2 separate regions of the Homo sapiens genome follow, and region 1 is linked to region 2. Evidence: fine-mapped expression QTL. A gene starts in region 2. The other region holds a variant in brackets. All regions are shown on one strand. Distances are between the middles of the regions.

The links.
Region 1: its variant is fine-mapped to the expression of C10orf88 in blood mononuclear cells (TOPMed, PIP above 0.99). The same link has a PIP of 0.9 or more in whole blood.

The regions. Positions count from the first base shown.
Region 1 is chr10:122,930,893-122,936,279 of GRCh38, forward strand. C10orf88 (chromosome 10 open reading frame 88) reads right to left here. Exons shown (of 6, transcript NM_024942.4): 6 at 9-1,769. The coding sequence ends at 1,535. Among named protein-coding and RNA genes, the nearest start is that of C10orf88, 21 kb to the right of the region's middle. The variant G/T (reference allele first, on the strand shown) is at 3,179.
Region 2 is chr10:122,951,471-122,956,857 of GRCh38, forward strand. It overlaps C10orf88 (chromosome 10 open reading frame 88), which reads right to left and starts at 2,757. Exons shown (of 6, transcript NM_024942.4): 1 at 2,545-2,757; 2 at 1,359-1,562; 3 at 484-556. The coding sequence starts at 2,708. It overlaps LOC124902519 (a long non-coding RNA gene), which reads left to right and starts at 2,972. Exons shown (of 2, transcript XR_007062325.1): 1 at 2,972-3,098. RefSeq lists a silencer at 2,473-2,552.

The sequences.
Region 1 (5,387 bases), 21 kb before region 2:
AACCAAAAAAGAGTGACAAACACTGCAGGTTTTATTCAATCGCCACTGAATTGAGAAGCAGGAGTATGGCTCACAAATCAACTTTTCAACTAATGAGGAGTGAGGGGGTTAAAATATAATTTTTCTAATAAAGGTGTTTCACATTCAAGCAAAGGGAGGAATATTCCTGGATTTTTCAGAAATGGGCAGTGAACTTCCTAAAACCAGAGTGCTGCCTTCCTTTTTGTCCTTTCATGGCTTCTTCTGGTCACTGTCATGGCGATTGTCAACTGTCATGGAGCTAGCAGGAGCGTTATTTAGCACAGAAATAAGATTATAAAAAGGCTGAGGTCTTTTTAAAGTCGTTTGGTCAGCTATCGTGGTTGTAACCAGTCTCCTCTGGACTGGTTACAAAAGGAACTTTTCATCACAGGCATCCTGTTTCTTAAAGATAAGCAGAGTTAGGGCAGGGTAAAAATTCAGCTATGTCACGCAGGAATTACATCAGGTAACATTTTTAAAGAAGAAATTTGCCAAAATATTAAATGAGTATGAGATACCCTTTTTCTAAAAAATAAGACATTTGAAGTAAAGATTAGTTGAAATAAAACAGTTCTACTAACTAAAGACAAGTAGTTCCCAGAGCAGGTGCATTTATTTTTATATGCAAATATATCACCCTTCAATGCATATACAATAGTTATAAGGTCTGAAAACTAAGTCTATCAGAGAGAATTGCAATCCCTTGACTCATATGTGTTCATCCTTCCATGGAGAGCCTCATTATTTCATACAATAAACATGCCAGAAAAGGATTCTGGGGAAAAAACCTGTATCAGCTCAAAAGGAGAGGTTTTCTTAAACTGTCTGGGGTTACTGAGGTCAAACAAGATGACTGCATCTGTTTTACAGGAAAAATCAAATCCAAAGTACTAATCGTAACAAGGACTAGGCTAGTTCTGATGTTTACTTTCCTACCTACAGCTACTCTGTAATGAAACAAATAATATTAACAACCCCAGAGTGAACTAAGTTTACACATGCCAAATATCACATCTTATTCATTATCTCACACAAGCAATACAAAATGTAAACTGGTAATCTGAAGTAAAGGCTCCAAGTCTTAAGTATCCAATTTTCCAAGATAATTAGAAAAAGAAAAAAATCAAATACTCTTAAGCATTATTTTTCATACTTCTAAGACTATAAGATCTTTGTATAAATAAAAATTATACTTAAACACATATACAATACAAACTAATGAACTGTATTAGAAATCCTCAAGCATTTTAAACTCTTAACACAAATATACATACATTTCTGTAAGACTGAAAAATATCGTGAGCAAAAATAATTTGACTGTATCATATTAACTCAGTGTACAGTACTGGATTTAAAATAACAAGTGTAGTAAAAACGAAAACTGAGGTCACTTTGTGTAAGACAATGATCCCTCAAAGGACATTAAATACTTGCTTTTTATAAATATTTTTGGGTTTTGGCTTTGTAATAAATATGTAATAAATATCTGCAGTACACTGTTTATGTTGAGAGCTTATCTTTCTCCATTTGAAAGTCTTTCTCCAGAGTCATAATGTCTTAGAGGTATCCCAGTGGGCGGGGAGTTAGGATTTTGCAGCAAATCCAGTAACAAAGCAATCTTATCATCAATGTGCTCCTGGAGTTCATGTATTCGCTGATCAATGTAATCCATAAGTTTCTTTTCCATCAGTTCCATATTTTTAGAAAGAATCTTTTCCAAGTAGGAGCAAATAGATTGCTCTTCCATTCTAAAAATACATTTTTAAAAATGTGTAAATTTTCCCTAATAACAAAAACAACCAAGCTTATAAAACAAGCAGCCAACATATATTGCTGAGATTTGTCTCCACAACTGTGCTCTGTCTTCTTACAATGCATTTCTAGGTCCTAATACACATCCACAATAGGCAACCACAGCCCTAAATGCCCAACACATTATTAATTCTTTTTTAGTATACAATTGAACAGAAATGTAAAAGTGAAAAGGAACCCTCAAAGAGCAAGTCTTTAGAAAGGGTCTTTTTGATTTTGAGGTCCAAATCAAAACTGATCTGGCCCAATTTTCTTCTAAAGTCAACATGCATATTTTCAAATACTTCCCCAACCAACTCTATAAAGTTTTTCTTCCTTCATACAAACAACCTTACTAAACTACTAGAAGGTTCTTTTTTTTAACCTGGTATAAAAACACTTCAGAATTTAACTAGAATGGGCAAACTAACAAAATAAATAAAAAGCACACCAATTTCTAACGTTCACAATGAACATTAGAACAGTAAGTCTCAGGGCAGGCACGGTGGCTCACGCCTGTAATCCCAGCACTTTGGGAGGCTGAGGTGAGTGGATCACTTGAGGTCAGGAGTTCGAGACCAGCCTGGCCAACATGGTGAAACTCTTGTCTCTTACTAAAAGTACAAAAATTAGCTGGGTATGGTGGTGGGCGCCTGTAGTCCCAGCTACCTGGGAGGATTGCTTGAACCCGGGAGACAGAGGCTGCAGTGAGCTGAGATTGCGCAACTGCACTCCAGCCTGGGTGATAAGACTCCGTCTCAAAACAAGAACAGTAACTCTCAGAATGTGGTCCACAGAACCTTGGGGTCTCCATGATTCTTTTGGGAATTCACTGAGGTCAGAAGTATGTTTATACTAAGATGTTATTCGACTTTCTCATCCTCATACTCATGAATTTTCCAGAGGCTACAAAATCTATGTTATTGCCCTGATGACTAACAGAATCTGTAGTTGTGTATTCTTCTTTCCTAAAATTTCAAGGTAGTAGAGATTTAGTGTATAAATATATGCTTTTTCAGAGATTAATCCACTCTGTTCTCAGTATTCCTACTGTGCTCTTACTAGCTATATTTCACTATACATGCTATAATTCAATATACATGATAATGCAGCCAAAAGCTATTATGTATAGATTCATGTACATTTAAAATAATACTATTCTCAATAAAATTTTAAAAGAAAATCTGGCTTTTTTTCATAAAGACTGTTATTTATGTTAATATACAGTGGGTTTATTGTTATTTTTAAACAAATATTTTTATGTAGCCTACATAAGTTTATTGGAGTCCTCAATTAAGAGTGTAAAGACCAAAAGTCTGAGAGCCACTACTCTAGAATACACCAAAGACAGTTTTTAAGAAACTCT[G/T]TATTTTGAAATAATTATGGATTCACAGGAAGTTGCAAAGATATTAGTTTCTCAGTGCCCTTTATCCAATCCTCCCAATGGTCACATCTTATCTACCTATAATCCAATATCAAAACCAGGAAATTGATATTAATATGATGTGTGTGTATAGTTCTATGCCATTTTATCATATGTACACATATTTATTTAAACACCACCATAATCAAAAGGCAGAACCATTCTTTAACTGCAATGATCTCCTCCCTGCTACCCCTCTATTGTCATACCTACTCCCCTAAAGTCTTCTTTCCCTAATACCTGGTAACCATCAATATGTTGTTCATCTCTACAGTTTTATTATTTTGAAAATATTATAAAGTGAGATCATACAGTATGTGACCTTTTGAGATTCTCTTTTGTCACTCAGCAAAATGCCTTTGAGAGATGTCCAAGTTGTTTTTTACTGCTCATCAGCACTGCGTGATATGGAGGTACCATAGTTTAACCATTCACCTATTGCTAAGACATTTTAGTTGGGACTTCTGGGATATTACAAAGAAAGCTTTTATTAATAACTGTGTACAAGTTTCTGTGTGGACCTGAGCTTTCATTTCTCTGGGATGTCCAGGAGTATAATTGCTGGGTTGTACGGTAACTGTATGTTTAGTTTTTAAGATATTGCCAAAATATTTTTTAGAGTGACTGTACCATTTTATATTCCTACCAACAATGTATGAGAGATCCAGTTCCCAAACATCTTTGTCAGCATTTGGTATTGTTACCATTTTTAAATTTTAGCCATCCAAATATGTAGTGATATATTGTGGTTTTAATATGCATTTCCCTAATAGTCACTAAGTCAATGTTGATCAACTTTCCTTGTGCTTATTTGCTATTTGTATATCCTGTCTGTTGAAATGACTATTCTTTTGCCCATGGTTTAAATTGGATTGTTAGGTTTTATTTTTATTTGCTTTTAACATAGAGTTTTGAGAGTTCTTTATGTACTTCAGAGACAGGTCATTTGCTGGATTTGTAATTTGCAAAGAATTTCTCCCAGTCTGTATTTTAATTCCCCTAACAGTGTCTTTCATAAACAAAAGTTTTACATTTTGATGGGGCCCAATAAATCAGTTTTTTATTTTATGGATCACGCTTTTGATGTCATATCTGAGAACTCATTTCCTAGTCCTAGGTCCCTAGAGTTTCTCCTGTAGAAAAGCTTTATAGTTTTATATTTTACATTTTAATCTATAAGTAATTTTGTGTTAATTTTTGCATAAAGTATAAGATTTAAGTCACAATTCATTTTTTGCCTGTGGATATCCAACTGTTCCAGCACAGGTTAAAAAGACAATTCTACCTGTATTGAATTATTTTTGCATTGTCAAACGTCAGTTGGTGTACTTGTGCAGAGTTATTTCTGTGCTATCCATCTATAAGTCTATGCCTCTGACAATAACACAGTCTTGAATACTGTGGCTATGTCTTGAAATCAAGTAGTGATTTCTCTTACACTTTTTCAAAATTTTTTATAGTTCCTTTATTTTTCCATTTTAAAAAATTCTCCATTTCTAAATTTTAGAATCATCTCATTCATATTTATAAAAAATCATGCTCGATTTTTCATAGGAATTACATTAAATTTATATATCAACTAGGAGAGAATTGACGTTTTTACTATGCTGTGTCTTCAAATCCATGAATATGGTATGTCTCTCCAGTTTTTAGGGCTTTTCTTTTCCTTTGTCAGTATTTTATAATTTTCATTTCACATATCCTTATATATTTTGTTAGGTTTATAAATTTTTTCATATATTTTATAAGTATTTTTTATAGATTTACATATTTTACATATATTTACATGCATTTTTGTGTATTTTAATTTTGGGGGGCAATCTAGTTTGGTGTCAGGCTAATACTGACTTCACAGAATGAGTTGGAACATCTTCCCTCCTCTTCTAGTTTTTAAAAGCATGTAAAATTGATGTTCTTTAAATGTTCAGTGGAAACCTTCAGTGTAGCCATCTGGGCCTGGATATTTCTTTTTCATGAGCTTTCCAATCATTAATCAAATATTTTTAGTGGTTATAGGACTATTTTATTACTTATTTCATGTTGGCTGAGTTTGGTTGGTAGTTTGTGGTTTTGGGGAAATTAATCCATTTCTCCTAAGTTGTCAAATTTATGAGCATAAATTTGTTTGTAATATTCCCTCCCTTGTTATCTT
Region 2 (5,387 bases):
AACTGGGATTATAAACATGTACCACTGCACGTGGCTCATGGTTAAATTTTAAGAGAAAAAGTCTACTCACTGGTCACCGGGTGAAAAATTTAAAAAAAAAAAAATTTCTTAATTCAATGTTAAAAAGGGCTGATAATTTTTTAGAAAAGTAATTTCTTTGTACATGTTTACTAAGTATTTCTGAGCCTCATCTCTACTAAAAATTTAAAAAATTTGCCAGGCATGGTGGTGTATGCCTGTAGTCCCAGCTACTTGGGAGGCTGAGGTAGGAAGTTAGCTTGAGCTGGGAGATGACGTTGCAGTGAGCCATGATTGTCCCACTGCACTCCAGCCTGGGCAACAGAGCAAGATACTGTCTTGAAAAGAAAAAAAAAAGCAAGCAAGCAAGTTGGACTAATTGTATTACTAATCCAAAAGAAAACAAGCATACACAGAGTACAAAAACAACTTAGTTGTCAAATTAGTTTACAACTGACAACTTACCTTTATTTTACAAGCATGTGTGGAGGACTCCAATTTTAGATTTTTTTTATACAAAATGATCTTTTCATGTTCACTAAAAATAAAAAAGAATTAATTTTTTTTACTTACATATATTGTCACTTTTAATAGTTACACTTAAAAATAAATGTTTCCAGAACAATATTGAAATCCTAAGATTCAGTTTTCCTGGTGAGGCATGAAGAGTTGGGCTCCATAACTGAAGCACACTGCCTATGATTACATCTACCACTTACTAGGCTCAATGAGAAAATTACATTATATAACATATGTACAACCATGTAGCCAGACTGTATTTTAAAGCTCAATAAACACAGCAATTGTTTCCAACATGCAGGATATAAAACAGTTCATATTTTGTGTTAAAGACAGATTGGAGAAAAATCTTCGTAAGAAAAAAAATCACAAGTTGCGTTACAGGTTAATAAATAGGTTTATGTAGCACAGTCTTAGATCCCTCCACCATTTCTAATAGGCTTCCAAGAAGAAAATGTATTCAAAGTTCCAGACTGACTACCAAATTAACTTTCGGAAGACAGACTGCTGTGAGTTTAAGGAAAGAGACACACTTCTCAAAATTTCATTCTAATAAAACTCTTCCACTAACTAGCTATGACCTCCTACCAATTCACCTTGATTGTTAGTTCTAAATTTCAACATTTATAAAAATAACTAGGCTGATCTACACTGTCTTTTAAGATCTCTAAAGTTGTAAACTTCTATGCCTACTGGCACATTTTTATCTTCTCTCCCATAACATATGGTATCAATATCAGAGAATCAATAATTATTGCAAAAAGTGAGAAAAATCAAAACACTACTTCAGAAGAACACTTTCCCGTGTACAAGTCACACACCTGTCATCCAGGACAGTACAAACATTCTTGCCCCTACTGGTTCCACAGTACTCCTCTCCTAAGTACACTTCCATATTTCTTGCTGAACTTAAAATGCCAATAGAAGCGATTTCTTCACCTCCATCAGGGCCACACCTCAGGTAAAGGAAGCAGGGGTTTTCATCTTTGTTGTTGTGGTTTCTCTTCAAAATCACCAGATCCTGACTGAGAAGAAAATTGGTGAAAACATCACACAGTATAGTTCTCTGAACATGACTCTTCTTTTTTGAGACGGAGTCTGGCTCTGTCGCCCAGGCTGGAATGCAGTGGCTCCATCTCGGCTCACTGCACGCTCCGCCTTCCGGGTTCACGCCATTCTCCTGCCTCAGCCTCCCAAGCAGCTGGGACTACAGGCACCCGCCACCGCGCCCGGCTAATTTTTTGTATTTTTCGTAGAGACGGGGTTTCGCCGTGTTAGCCAGGATGGTCTTGATCTCCTGACGTCGTGATCCGCCCGCCTCGGCCTCCCAAAGTGCTGGGATTACAGGTGTGAGCCACCGTGCCCGGCCGGGGCTTCTTTCTTCTAACTCACTTCCACTTGCCCTTGAGGTCCAAGCACCTTCCCAAGCATCCAAGAAGCGCTCAACACAGAATTCATACGGAAATGAAGGTGTCACACATCAGGGCTTTCCCAAACTCTATTTTTTCCTCAATCAACATTCTACTCAATCCCCTGCAATTGACTCTCGGATAATTACATAAATCACTGGGCACCTACTGGGTGCAGGGCACAATGAAAGACAAAAGTGTATCTTTTTCGAAATTAAGTCGACAGCGATCATCTATAGCTGGACTTTTTACACAGCCTGTTTTGGTGGACAGGAGGTGTCTTGTTTGAGGGTAGAGGGGCGGACTGACTTTGACAGCAGCCCTGAGGGGCTATCACGCCTGATGGGGACGTTATATGAAATTCCGAGTCCGGGTCACCTTCCCCCTCTCACGCCCAGGAGCCTCGGCCCCTTCCCGGCCGGACCCACCCCCCTCCGCCCACCCCGGACGACCTCGCAGCTCCCCTCCCCAACTAGAGACCTGGTACCAACTGCTCTCCCGGATCCCGGGCTCAGACCCTCTCGCCTCCCCTCACAGCTCCCCTAGAAGCGCGGCAGTTGCCGAGCATAGCGACCCCGTCCCCGTCGGCCCGGCGCACCCTGGAGCAGGCGGTGCCAGCAGCTCCTCCCAGTCGAAGTCACCGGGGCCGAGACCGGCCCGGGTGAGGAGGAGGCTGTGGGTCAGGGCCCCGCCTGCAACATCCCAAGAAGAGGCCAGCGTGGGGCGGCGGGTGAGGCCCCCGTCCTCGGTCCGCGTCTCCATTCCGCCGCCTTCAGTCAGGCCAGCCCAGCCCCGGAACCTCTCTTCCAGTGCTTGAATTTCCGCCGGTACAGCGTGGAAATGGGCAGGCAAAGCGACTTCCGGCTCACTCCGCTTCAAGTACCCGCCGCTTCTTGCTTTGGTGGGGAGAGCAGGCACCAGAGACACGCATGCGCATGTGCCAGCTGGCCTCAGGCGCGGCGTTCAAAGTGTGCGGGGAGGAGGTCGAGAGCGGAGCATGCGCACTGGCAGACCCTTGCTCTTTCGCTGGAGACTATGCGCAGGCGCGGTGCACTGCGCGCCGGCACGAGGGTGTTTTCGACGTTGGCTGTGGGGAAACAGCAAGCGGCGTGGACGACCGTTGCTGAGCTGGTGTGGAACGTCTGTGATCAGGTAGGTGTAGTCTCGTCGCTCTACGCTGCGTGCAAGACCGACTCCTGACCTCGTTCTTTCCCAAGGGGACGCCAGGGCCTTTTCTGCTTCCATTCCGTCGGATCTGCAGCATTTGTGGCAGCTAGCGCGGCGGACGCGCTGCCGATTCGGGTTATTTTTACTTCGAATTCTCCTAGCCTCCCTCACACATATTCTCGCTTTAGAGGGGGGCTGAAGCGGATGATGGGGTTTTGGGGTTGAAGGGCATCTGTGATGGGCATTGAGCCACGCTGGCCTTCGCCGGGTGCTGTCTCAGCTGACGCCCCCTGACCCCATGTGCAACCCTCAGGCCGCAGGAACCCGGGCATCCAGGGCTGGACGCTCTAGGTGACAGAAATTTGAAATGCAAGAAAGACCCAGACACCGAAGGCAGGGGCTGCCCCATGAGATCGCTCCTCATGGCACTGGAAACAGCGAGTGGAAAGGGGGGGTCTCAGAACTCTGTTGAAGTAGAATATGAACTCAGTCTTGAAGGAACTTAAGGCTACGGATGCAGAACAGTGGGAGCAGATGGAACTTTCTAGATGCCCCACGGGATGGGACTGTATATAGTGTGCCCCCTCATCCTCCTCCTGTAGAGGCTTGTGCAGATTATTTTTCTGTCTTTTGAAAAAAGCAAACTCTGAAATTCCACTTGTCTATAATCTAGAGTTCCAAAGTTGTGTTTAAGGTGGTATCCTCTCTAGGAAATAACGTTTTTGCTCACCCATACTCTAATTTTCTTTCAGAGCTGTCTATTCTGGGTTCATGACTCAGTGCGCATTACTTTAATCTTTTTGCTTATGTTTTCGTTTGAGTTTATGTACTAGGACTTGTGCCCTCTAGCTAAAAATGAGAATAAACTTTGCATTCTGTTTACCTGTGTCAAAGCAAGAAAAATGATGACCAAATGTATTTTTCTATAAGTAATCACCAGAATGTACGTATGGTAGGTGAATTCACCAAGATTGAAAGAGAGAAATGTCACCAAAGGTCTATCATAGCAGAATTGTAAAGTCCTCGTTTGCAAAGATTTTTTTAATATTTCAGACTCATTCTAAGTTGTCCTTGTCATTATTTTTGTCCTGTATGTCCTGCTTCCTGTGGTTGTAAGTTAACTTTGATCCACATTAATACATGTGGACAATCCGAAGGAAAATAGGCTCTTCAGAAACTAATCTGCAATTTCATGAGCAATAGCAATATTATAAACTGGATTTTGACTTCCTTAAATAAAGCTGAATGTCCAGGAATCAGAAAACAAAAGATTCCTATGGTCTATCCTTTCCTTTATTTCCATACAGCCAATAAACCACCAAGTCTTCATTTTCTTAAAGAAAAATTTTCCTATCTCTGCTTCTTCTGTTTCCAAGCACTAGCTTTATCTGAACAATTCCAGGAGTTTGTCAGTAGCTTTCATTTTGATTCCTTCCATTTCAGTCTTTGCACTGCCCTCTTCTCCTTCTGGTGATCAATGTTCCTGACTGAATCAACACCTTCACTCCTTAGCATAGCATGCAGAGTCCTTTGTACTTTGAACCCTGCCTACCTTCCAGTTTCCTCTACCTAGAATGCCATTTTTTTCAATAGTAGGAAAAATCCTATTTATCATGCGAAACCAAGCTTACTTCATCCTGCTACAGAATTAAACAAATTCCTCTGTGCTACAATTACCACTTTTTTAGGTAGTATAATTCTCCTTTGATGTCAGACTTTGCCTGTTTATATATCTGTGTTCCCTACTATCTGCATGCTTGCTGAGATAGACATTATGTTGAGTACAGGTTTGTTGTATGGAATTGATAGGTTGGTGACAGCTTTTATCACATAAACTAAGAGCAGCAGAAAAAGGAAAATTAGTACATTCAATCTTAAGCTTTTTTCCAAAGCCAGGATGGTTATGGTTCAAAGCTGACTTCAATCTTAATATGATACATTATTCTTGTCATGAATTACAAGTGAGTTTTTTGCTTTACTTTTCTCTTTGAAGTAAATCAGAAAATATAGTTGGTGATATGGTTGGCTGTGTCCCCACCCAAATGTCATCTTGAATTGTGGCTCCCATAATTCCCACTTGTTGTGGGAGGGACCCCGTGGGAGATAACTGAATGGTGGGGGCAGTTTCCCCCATACTGTTCTCGTGGTAGTGAATAAGTCTTGGGAGATCTGATGGTTTTATAAGGGGAAGCGCCTTTCGCTTCGCTCTCATTCTCTCTTTCCTCTGCCTTGCTCTTCTGCCATGATTGTGAGGCCTCCCCAACCAACCACATG